Homo sapiens: one gene and its partner. The protein of the gene in region 1 interacts with the protein of each later gene in a biochemical or structural test. Each region holds a gene or a part of one and is shown on either strand. Other genes may lie near its edges.

Region 1 (4,499 bases):
GTGCAAACACAAATTCATGCATGTACACACAGTGAACTCACAAACGTCCAATTGTGTATCTAATTAGAGAAGAAAATCAGTTGCACAATACTCACGGGTACAGGAATACACAAAAAACTGGTAGGAACTTAGGTGCACCAATATCTGCACATTATTGTATATGCACACAAGTATGTGTGGGCACCTGCCCGTCTAGCTGCACACGTGTGGGTATATACATACATATTGCCGAAGAGAGAAAAAATGTGGGAGTGGAATTTACAATTTAAAAAAATCCTGGACAAAGATAATACCTCCTGAGAAGGAAACTTCCCTTCCTCCCCTTAACCTCTTAAGATCTGAGAGCAGCTCCTGCTCTGGAAGGATGGGCCCCAGTGTTAGCAGCAAGAGGCCAGACATTTCCTTCTGGGAACCCAGGGTGTCCTGAGGGCCCTGGGGGCTTCTATGTGCGCCCCCCTTGGTGAGGAAGAAAGTTAGGCTTTGTTGGGATGCCTAAGGGAACCCTCTTTGGTTTAGGGCCCAGATACGGCAGACGTGCGCCCACCTCGGGTTCAAGGCCCAAGCAGCCACTCCGAACAGCTTTCCCAGCATTTGGGCCTCCTCTCCTCCGGCATTGCGGGCCCAGGAGATCCGAGCCCCGCGAGGCTCCGCAGGCCGCCCCCGGACCTGCTGCTTCGCCAACAGAAGCCCTCCCGCAAACGAAGTGCAGTGAGTCCAGGCGGCCAAGAGGCCAGGCCAAAGTGCCCCTCGCCCAAGCGGGCTGTCGGGGAGGGAGGAAGGCAGGCCCCCTTCTATCTCTGGATAAAAAAAATCTGCAGCAAAACCTGCACCAGGGGAAATAAAAGAAAGAAAGAAAAAGAAAAGTGCAGGTTGGAGTGAAAAGCAGTTTGTACAGGAGGAGGCCGCCACTGGGCTGGGCCTGGACCGGTGCGGGGAGCTGCCCCGCAGCCCAGGCAGCGTTTCCGAAGCCAGGACTGTGGTTGTCGGCCTTTGAGTTCCCTTGAACGCAATCGGAGACCAGGCGTGTCCCGCCAGACCCTTCAGACCCAGGCTAAACCCAAATCTGGGTCGCGCTTCCCCTTCGCCCTGCATTCGTTGTGCGGTGATCGCAAGGCCCGGCCGGCTCCCCGCCCGGCGTGCGCAGGGGCGCTGGGGCGCTGTGTGCCCGGACCCACGTCCTTCCCGAGCCCGCAAACAGGAGAGCCGCCAGCGCTCGTGAGCACAGTGTACACTTTATTTCAGACTACAGGTTTCTGAACATAATAAAATCTTTGGCTTGTAGCGGCGGTTCAGTCTCGCAGTCTGTGGGGTCGTATTTCTCAACAAGTCTCCGGAAAACGAAAGGGGGGCAGAACAGACAGACCGACAGAAGGGACCCGGGAGGTGGGGGAGAAGAGGTGGGCAGACACGAAAGGAAACACACTCTCGCACACAAAGAAAAGTCCCAGAGAAACCAGGGCCGGCGATGCGGGTCGGGAGGCACCGGAGAAGCAATGACATTCAAATGAAAAAGGCAACGAAAACGAAACTGGGCGGGGGCAGCGAGGCGGTGGGGGAGGGGATAAAATAATTATAATAATTATAATAATTATAACAATAATAATAAAGGAGATTAATAAAAATGTCCAGCAAATAGAGATCGCTACACGTATGTGTTTTCCTTACCTGAAATTAAATATATACAAGGTCGTAAGCGGTTTGGCTAGATAGAGCTTTAAGGAGTTCGCAGTTTCGTCCCTTATACTGGGAATAGAGAATGGATCTTATTTTTCGATAGCACCTGTCCGAGTCTTTCTCCCTTTTCAAAAATGCTGCGTTTCAACGTCATTGTCCATTCTGAGGCTCTCTTTCTGTCTCTCTCGCTCTTTTCCCTGCGCTCCCTCCCTCCTTGGAGCAGATGCTTTCTCCCCCAGCGAGGGGCCGGGAGACGACGGCGGCGGTGCCGGGAGGGGGCGCGGGCGCGGCCCCGGCCTGTGGCGGCTACTCGCTCTCGTCTTTGTCCTGGACCGTGGTGGTGGAGTGGTTGTACAGTCCCTGGGCCATGAGGTGCAGCGCCAGGCCGTTCTTGATGCCTGTGGCTTTCTTGATCTTGGCGCGCTTGTTCTGGAACCAGATCTTGATCTGGGACTCGTTGAGGCTGAGTTCCTGGGCCAGGGTCTGCCGCCGCTGCTCCGTGATGTAGCGGTTTGCCTGGAACTCCGCCTTGAGTCTCTGCAGCTGCTCGGCCGTGAACGCGGTCCGCGGCCGCTTGTCCTCCTTCTCGTTCTTCTTCTTCTTCAGCTTCCTGGTGCGCGGACCTGCAGCGGCGGAGAGGGCCGGGGTGGGGTGGGGGTGGGGACCGAGGGCAGAAGGGAGGGGGGAGAGGGCAAAGGAAGCCGTGAGAATAGCATTGCCGAGCTGGGCCGCGAGCCCCGCGCTTCCGGGGCGATCTCGGAGGCCCTGCTGAACCCCTGGCTCCCTCCCGCCAGCCAATCCCTGGATCGAAGTGCCCCTCACCAGACCACTGGGGTCCCCGGGTTCCCTTTGGGAGGGCAAAGGAGCAGTGAAGGAAAGCTGGTTGAGGTTGTAGGTGCACCCCACACCCCAATTCTCACAGGACAGTCAGGGACAGACCGAAATCACAACATTTCCAAGCCAAGAAGGCAGGAATCCAAGATGAGGAGATATTTGGAGCTCATATGGCCCAGCCCAGAGTTGGGGGTCAGGGGCCTGCTGTCCTCACCGCCCCGGAATAGATAGGACTGGGGCAGTGAGGGCAGGCCCTGGGGGAGTCGCCAGCCTGCAAACAAATCTTCCTCTCCTCCTCAAGAATCATACCTACAGGAGAAACTACAATAAGACCCCATCTGCTTGTAGCTATTGACCTCAGAAAACAACGGGATAGTGAGCCGGCTGGGAGAGGGCTGCTTAGCTCCAAAGTATTTGGTGTCTGCCCCCCTCCCCGCACCCCTCCCTCCCACACACACCTCCTCGCCTTCTTTCTCTTTGGCCTAAAGGAAGCCTTTTCTAGGGTCTCAGGGATGCAGGGACCACCCCTTCTCTGAAGGAGAAAAGGCCCTGATCCATCCTCATGACCCTGGCTCTGGGTTTTCAGCCTTGCCCCTTGGATGGTGCCAATAAGAAAGGGAGGGCCTTCCACATTCCTCTAACCGGCTGCGTGGGGCAGGGTCTCTCTTATCTGGGTCTTCCTTATCTCCCCTTTCAACTGATGCAATTTCAGGATTAAAAACTCCTGAATAACAAAAACAAGCCGGATTGGCTTTCTCTGCCTACTGATGACATTTGCAAGGAGACTGCAGCCCCTTCCCCCACCTATGAGCAAAAAGGAGAGGGAGGGAAGCAGGGACAATCCAGAAAAAAAAAAATGTGCTTTGACCACCAGATAGGAATGGGAAGGGGCCACAGGAAACCTCCTTAGGAAGGTGAAGTTCCCCTCAAATACTAGTCTGGGAGGAGGGCCCACTGAGAAAGGAGGGAGGGAAAGCGGGAAAACCAGGAGAGGATTGAACTGTTGGTGTGTGCCTCAAAAGCCTGCACCTCTGCCCACCTGCTTCCACACCCAAGTCTTCTGGCATTTACTTGCTGGGTCCTGCCTTGGATATGGTAGCTTGCTGAACCAAGTTAAGTCCCTGTCAGGCCTGTTCATCTCTAAAACTGTCTGGAAAGAAGGATCTTTGCCGGCATCTCCAAACCTAGCTACAGAGAGGAAGGCTGGGCAGCCTACTCCTGGGGCAGGCAGGAGGCTGGGGTAACCAGCTGTCCTATGACAAAGAGTCCAGGCCTAGCATACTGCAGCGACTCAGATCTGGGTCGAGGCTCATCCCCTCCTCCCCCAACTGCCCAAGCAGGAGAAGGAGCTGGTCCCCTACCTACCCAGGCCCATAAGAAGGAAAGTGGCCAAGAACAAAGCCAAGGCCCTCTCCAGAGCAGAACTGGGGTTTTGATTCGTAATTAGCTGAGCGGGGAGAAATAGCCCAAGAAATGCACACAGCCCCAAAAAGGCCCCACTGCCCGTTCTGCATCCGGGACATGTTGAAGTGTTGTTGTATGTGTGTGCAGAGGCACGGACTCTTGTAATAAAATCGTTCCTAGTCTCCCGGCCAGCCCGAGCCGTGCAGCCTGACAGCTCAATCACTCTATCCATCAGGCGAGTCAATCAAAGCAGCTTTTCGGAGGTTCAGGGAGCCCGACGTGTCAATAACGGGGCTCGAGATGGCGGGAGCTGATAGTGCGCATCGATCCGCGCCCGGCCGGCAGCTGTGGGGCGGCGAGAGACCAGCCAGAGGAAAGCGGCGCGTGGCTACGTTGTTCCCGGCCCCCTGCCGGACCGGGTGTCTGGAGTGCTGATCTTGGGCCAAAGCTTCTGCCGCTCTCCCAGACACTGCGGGCCGGGGCGTCAGGCAGGCCTTGGCCTTCTCTCCCGGAGCCCAGCTCAGGTCTCCTCCTCGGGTTCGCCAAGCGCGAGGGGCACACGGAAAAGTGGTGGAAGGAAAGCCGAG
Region 2 (5,021 bases), on another chromosome or scaffold:
TGAGCTTTTTCTTAAACCCATAAACTCAAAGGATTTAATAACCTCATTGACTCTTTTACAAGGGAACACCACCTCAGTGTGATGCTATATGCTGGTGCTGGGTTTATTGGAGGAGCTAAAAGAGGTGTGTAATTCTTCTGGGTTCCTGTAGGTTATGTGGCGGGATGACCTCTTCTTTATCATGTAGGGAGAAGGGGTGAAGTGGGTCAGAAGCACCATGGTGTGAGAATAGTTTTCTAATGAGTTTCTATACAGAGTGAGGCATTTGTGGCTATATACTGTCTGTCCGTGAGCCTGTATGCATTAATAATATGCTGTGTATAATTGGCTTAGCAATTTGAAAAACGTGAAAAGCTGAGAGACACCATGTTCTTCATAGTAGGGTACTGAGCCTCCTGAAATTTAGTTGATATTGGAAATGCTGACAGACCCTTAACTAGAGTGCTGTGCAAAGTAGTGCTATAATTCAGTTTAAAGTGGACTTACATTTGAAAAACATCCTTCTGAATGTCACACATTAATAATAAGTTCTGAGGAGGCATTTGGTGCAGCTAGTAATCATAATTCTTATTAAAACTGGTGACGTCTGGCCCCCAGGGTGTAGCCAAGCTCAAATTGATGCTTTTTGCCGCCTGATCACCAGCATGGCCTAAGTGCTCATTATATTGTAGAGAGGGCCTTTGGAGCTCTCATTAGATTTGACAGGAATTCTCTCTAGGGGGAAACTGGGCATTAGCGAGACTCCTGACAGGCTGAAATTATTCCTGCTTTATGGCTTATAACCAAATGCTAGCAAGGCATCATCAGGGGACACAAAAAATTGTCATTTTTGACAACATCTTTGTTACTAAAAAAAAAAAAAAAATGCAGTGATGGGGAAACTTTCCGTACAGAGAGCTTTAATGCTGTTAAGATTTGTCTCCAGTGTGACGACCGCTCTCCCTTCCCACCTTTCAACGGGTTTGTCGGAGTGAGTTCTAGAGATTTCAGTGTCAAATCTCACTGCTGACTTTCCTGTCTGGAAGTTTTAAAGTGAAAGTGCATCCAAATCAAGAATGGTATAATTGTGGTTTCCTTTCCTGGTGTGGTGCCCACAGCCCGTGTTTAGGTTGTGTCAACACTTCCTGATAAGCCTTGCCTTTACTTTCTCTGCTCCCGTTTGTGGCGGGTTACCGAAAAGGCAATGAAACAGGAATGGTAATAGATACTTAAGTCTTTCATGGTAGCACTAAGAATATTTTTTTCTTGGAGCCCTTTATAGATCCCTGTCTGCCCATCTTTATCTGTGTGGATGGTAAACTCTAGATATCTCTATACAGTAGAGGTAGACAATGTCTCATGGAAAATTGAGGCAGTTCTGATACCATCAGAGTGTTAGGGTGCATTAAAAAACAGCAAGTTGATGTGAGCCTGGTGGTTTGCCTAGCTGTGCCTAGTGTGTGTGGTGGCGTGATCTTTAAATGTTTTTGTCTGTCATATGGTTTGATATTACCTCATTTGATATTTTTGGGAACAAGATGTACTGTAAATGCACACATAAACCTTATTTTAGCCCACTCATGTTATCTTTTCAGCATGCTGATGAAGCCATGCTATAAATTGTCATTGGTGGCTTTAATTTGCACAGTAATGAACAGTTTTCAATGTGATTTGTCTTCTGTGACCTCCATAGGCATCCTCCAGAGTAGATTGGGTAGGTGTTTTGCTCTGCCTACAGCTGTGTGCACGTGTTCAGAGTCTGGGACTTGCTCAAGGCCACGCATCTATTGAAGCTTGAGTTGGGTTGCCTCCTCCAGGGTTGTCTGTGCTGCTGCTGCTGCTTTTTTTTTTTTTTTGAGATGGAATCTCGCTTTGTTCCCCAGGCTGGAGTGCAGTGGTCGATCTCTGCTTACTGCAGCCTTTGCCTCCTGGGTTCAAGCAATTCTCCTGCCTCAGCCTCCGGAGTAGCTGGGATTACAGGTGTCCGCCACCATGCCCGGCTAACTTTTTTTTTCTTTTTTTTGTAGTAGAGAGAGGGTTTCACCCATGTTCGCAGGCTGGTTTCGAACTCCTGACCTCAAGTGATCCACCCACCTTGGCCTCCCAAAGTGCTAGGATTACAGGCATGAGCTACCACACCCGGCCTGTCTGTGCTTCTTCCTATCCCCTCATGCTGCCATCAGGAAGATGAGGTGGACCATGTCTCCCTAGTGCCTGCCTCTTCAGTTCTGACTCTTTGTGCTGATGAACTTCATGATTTGTAAGACATGTCAGGACTGAATGTATGTTCTAAAAGTTAGGAGAATCAGCAGTGCCGCTGACTGGTCTTTCTGGGGAGAGGAGGGTCACAGGCCATGGGTAGATAAAACTACTGAGCAGTACTGTCCTCAGGTTAAAGTATGTTTAAGAAGAAACAAGTCAGGAATCCTGGTGGAGACCCAGTGATGGGGAGGGAGTTTGATCAGTCACTTTGTGCCTGTGTTCTGCTGAAGAATGGGCAGAGTGAGAGCACTGGGCTCTCCAGGATGGTGAAGAATTTTTTTTCTTTTTTTTTTTTGCGCGACGGAATCTCGTTCCGTCACCCAGGCTGGAGTGTGGTGGCACAGTCTCGGCTCACTGCAACCTCCGCCTCCCAGGTTCAAGCGATTCTCCTGCCTCAGCCTCCTCAGTAGTTGGGATTACAGGAGTCCACCACCATGCCTGGCTAATTTTTTATTTTTAGTAGAGATGGGGTTTCACTATATTGGCTAGGCTGGTCTCGAACTCCTGACCTCAAGTGATTCCCCCCGCCTCGGCTTCGCAAAGTGCTGGGATTACAGGCATAAACCACTGTGCCCGGCCGATGGTGAAGCATTTAAAAATAAATGAAAAGACTAGCTCTGAAAATCTGAAAGGAAGGATGATATATTCTGCAATCCTGGTTGGGAAAGGGAAAGAGCTCCATGTGATATTTCAGCAAGCAACATCTCAGGCCATGTAAATTTTGGAGTGAAACTGCTTTTACAGTTTTGATGTGTGCTTTAAAATTTCTCTTAGAAAAATGCGTTGTTCTTTAGTGGGTTTTTAAAAAAGTATTTAGATGGGACTGTTAGGGACTCACCTGTGGGATATTTCCTTAGATGTGATTCTTTTACTCTTTTGCAAATTTTACCTTAGTGTTTTTTTTGTTTTTTTTTTTTAACCCTGTGTGTTTTTGTCTACAGTTTCTCACTTTGAGATTTTTTTTCCCCCTAAGTCAACATCTCACACAGGGAAATGACTAGCTAGAGTATAGGCACTTAGAGTTAAGCTCCAGCAGGTGTTAATAATCTTGTCATACAAAGAGGGTAGCTGTCATCAAGATTGGAGTGGTCCTCAACTTCATTAGCCAGGCCTGTTCTTTGCAAGCATAAGTTAAAAGAGAGAAAGCTCTCTGCATTTAGAGCCTAGATTCCGAGGTGCAAGATTAGCCTTTGTTTCTTATCAGCAAGCAGGACTGATCTCTCACCTCTCAGTCACCTTCCCCACCCTTCAGCAGTGGGCCAGTGGCTGGTTTTTGTCCTGGACTTGCACTGGAGTAAGGCAAGGGAGTCCCTGGGCATGGATTTTAAGAAAATCACAAAACATAGTTATCATGATCAATATTTTGAAAATTCAAACGGAATGCCCCCAAAATCTTCAAGGAACAACATGTCCAAATTTTGTATTAGGGCAGGATCCAACAGGGGGAGTTGGGAATAGGGTGAGGACAGGAGGTAGAGTCAGGCCATTGCAGGGCCACAGCACCTCCCTTGCCTCCCCCTCTTTCTGCCTTTGGTTACCTGTCCTGTGGGGAGTGGCCATGAACTATAGGCTCTGACTTGGTTCCGTTGTAGTTCATTGAAGTCATTTAATTGGGGATTTCCATTCGGGACTGGGCAAGTCATGAACACGTTCCCTGGCTTCAGTTCCCCTCTCTGTATAATGAGGGTTAGACTAGACAAAAGTCTGTTTGTTCCCTCGCATGGTGGGAGCCATCCCAGCATACACCCGCAGAACCCAGCACCTCGTGCGTGCAAATTGAGGAGCGTCCTTCGCCAGAGGACTTAAGATGTTCTCCCAAATAGTGTTTATTAAGAAACAGAAAGAAAATCTGTTTCTTTAGTAAATATTTAAATAAATCATCTTGAGTGGTAGTTAAACTAAAAATATATTCAGTTACTGGCTCATGGAACCATTTTAAGTTTCCATGGATCTGAGTCTTTGCTGTTTTATTATTAAACCTTTTGTGGTCTCCAGAAGTGGATTAAAGGGGAGGAAACTGAGAAACTTACTGGCTTTCCTCAAAGCTTTGATTGATTTCGTTTCCTACCCTCTCCCCTCCCCATTGCTTATTGTTGCCTCTGATTTTTAAAAATGGAAATTCTCACAACTAGTACCTTTACTACAGGGTATTTAGTATAGTGGTTTTTAAGTAAATTTTAGACAGCTGTTTCTGTCGGTGGGCTTATTTGACAAGAATAGGCATCTGTACCTTCAAAATACTCCTCACCAGAGGATTGTTCTGTGAATACGGTGTGATGTTTTAAGTGGAACTAGGATGCGCAGGTGTGGGCAGGAGGAGAGAGGTTTTCTGATTTTTTTTCCCCGTGAGGTGTGGTTTGATCTGAAAAGTGAAATAAATTTGCACTGAAATTTTAACATAAATTAAGATATTCATGTATTGCCATTCACCTGATTTAACAAAAGTATGGTTTCTAAAATTGTTTGCAAAGGAATGATTTCAGATTTGCTGCTTGTGTTTCTTCCTGAGCAGGGTCCACAGGGGAAAAAAAAAGAAAAAAAAGTGAAGAAAAATTTTTAAAATTATTGTTTGTAGACTACCCAGTCACCGTAATATTTTTTAATGAAAATCCAGGAAGTGTTGATATATGATTTTATCAAATAACCTGTGATTTAGCAAAATTACATGTTTCATTATTTAACATTTAATTTTTTTAATGGCGATAGAGTCTTAATCTGTTACCCAGACTGGAGTATAGTAGCGCAATCTTGGTTCACTGCAGCCTCCGCCTCCTGGGTTC

What was found. Proteins that work in one complex are often made in the same cells at the same time.
Region 2: the proteins of EN1 (region 1) and TLE1 form a complex in vitro, tested with the Homo sapiens proteins (one study listed by BioGRID).

Annotation. Positions count from the first base shown.
Region 1 is NC_000002.12:118,840,958-118,845,456, forward strand, and holds the end of EN1 (homeobox protein engrailed-1), read right to left. Parts: intron 2,298-4,499; coding exon 1,981-2,297; 3' UTR 1,214-1,980; downstream 1-1,213. UniProt on the Homo sapiens protein: Required for proper formation of the apical ectodermal ridge and correct dorsal-ventral patterning in the limb.
Region 2 is NC_000009.12:81,679,067-81,684,087, reverse strand, and holds part of TLE1 (transducin-like enhancer protein 1), read left to right. Parts: intron 1-5,021. UniProt on the Homo sapiens protein: Transcriptional corepressor that binds to a number of transcription factors. Inhibits NF-kappa-B-regulated gene expression. Inhibits the transcriptional activation mediated by FOXA2, and by CTNNB1 and TCF family members in Wnt signaling.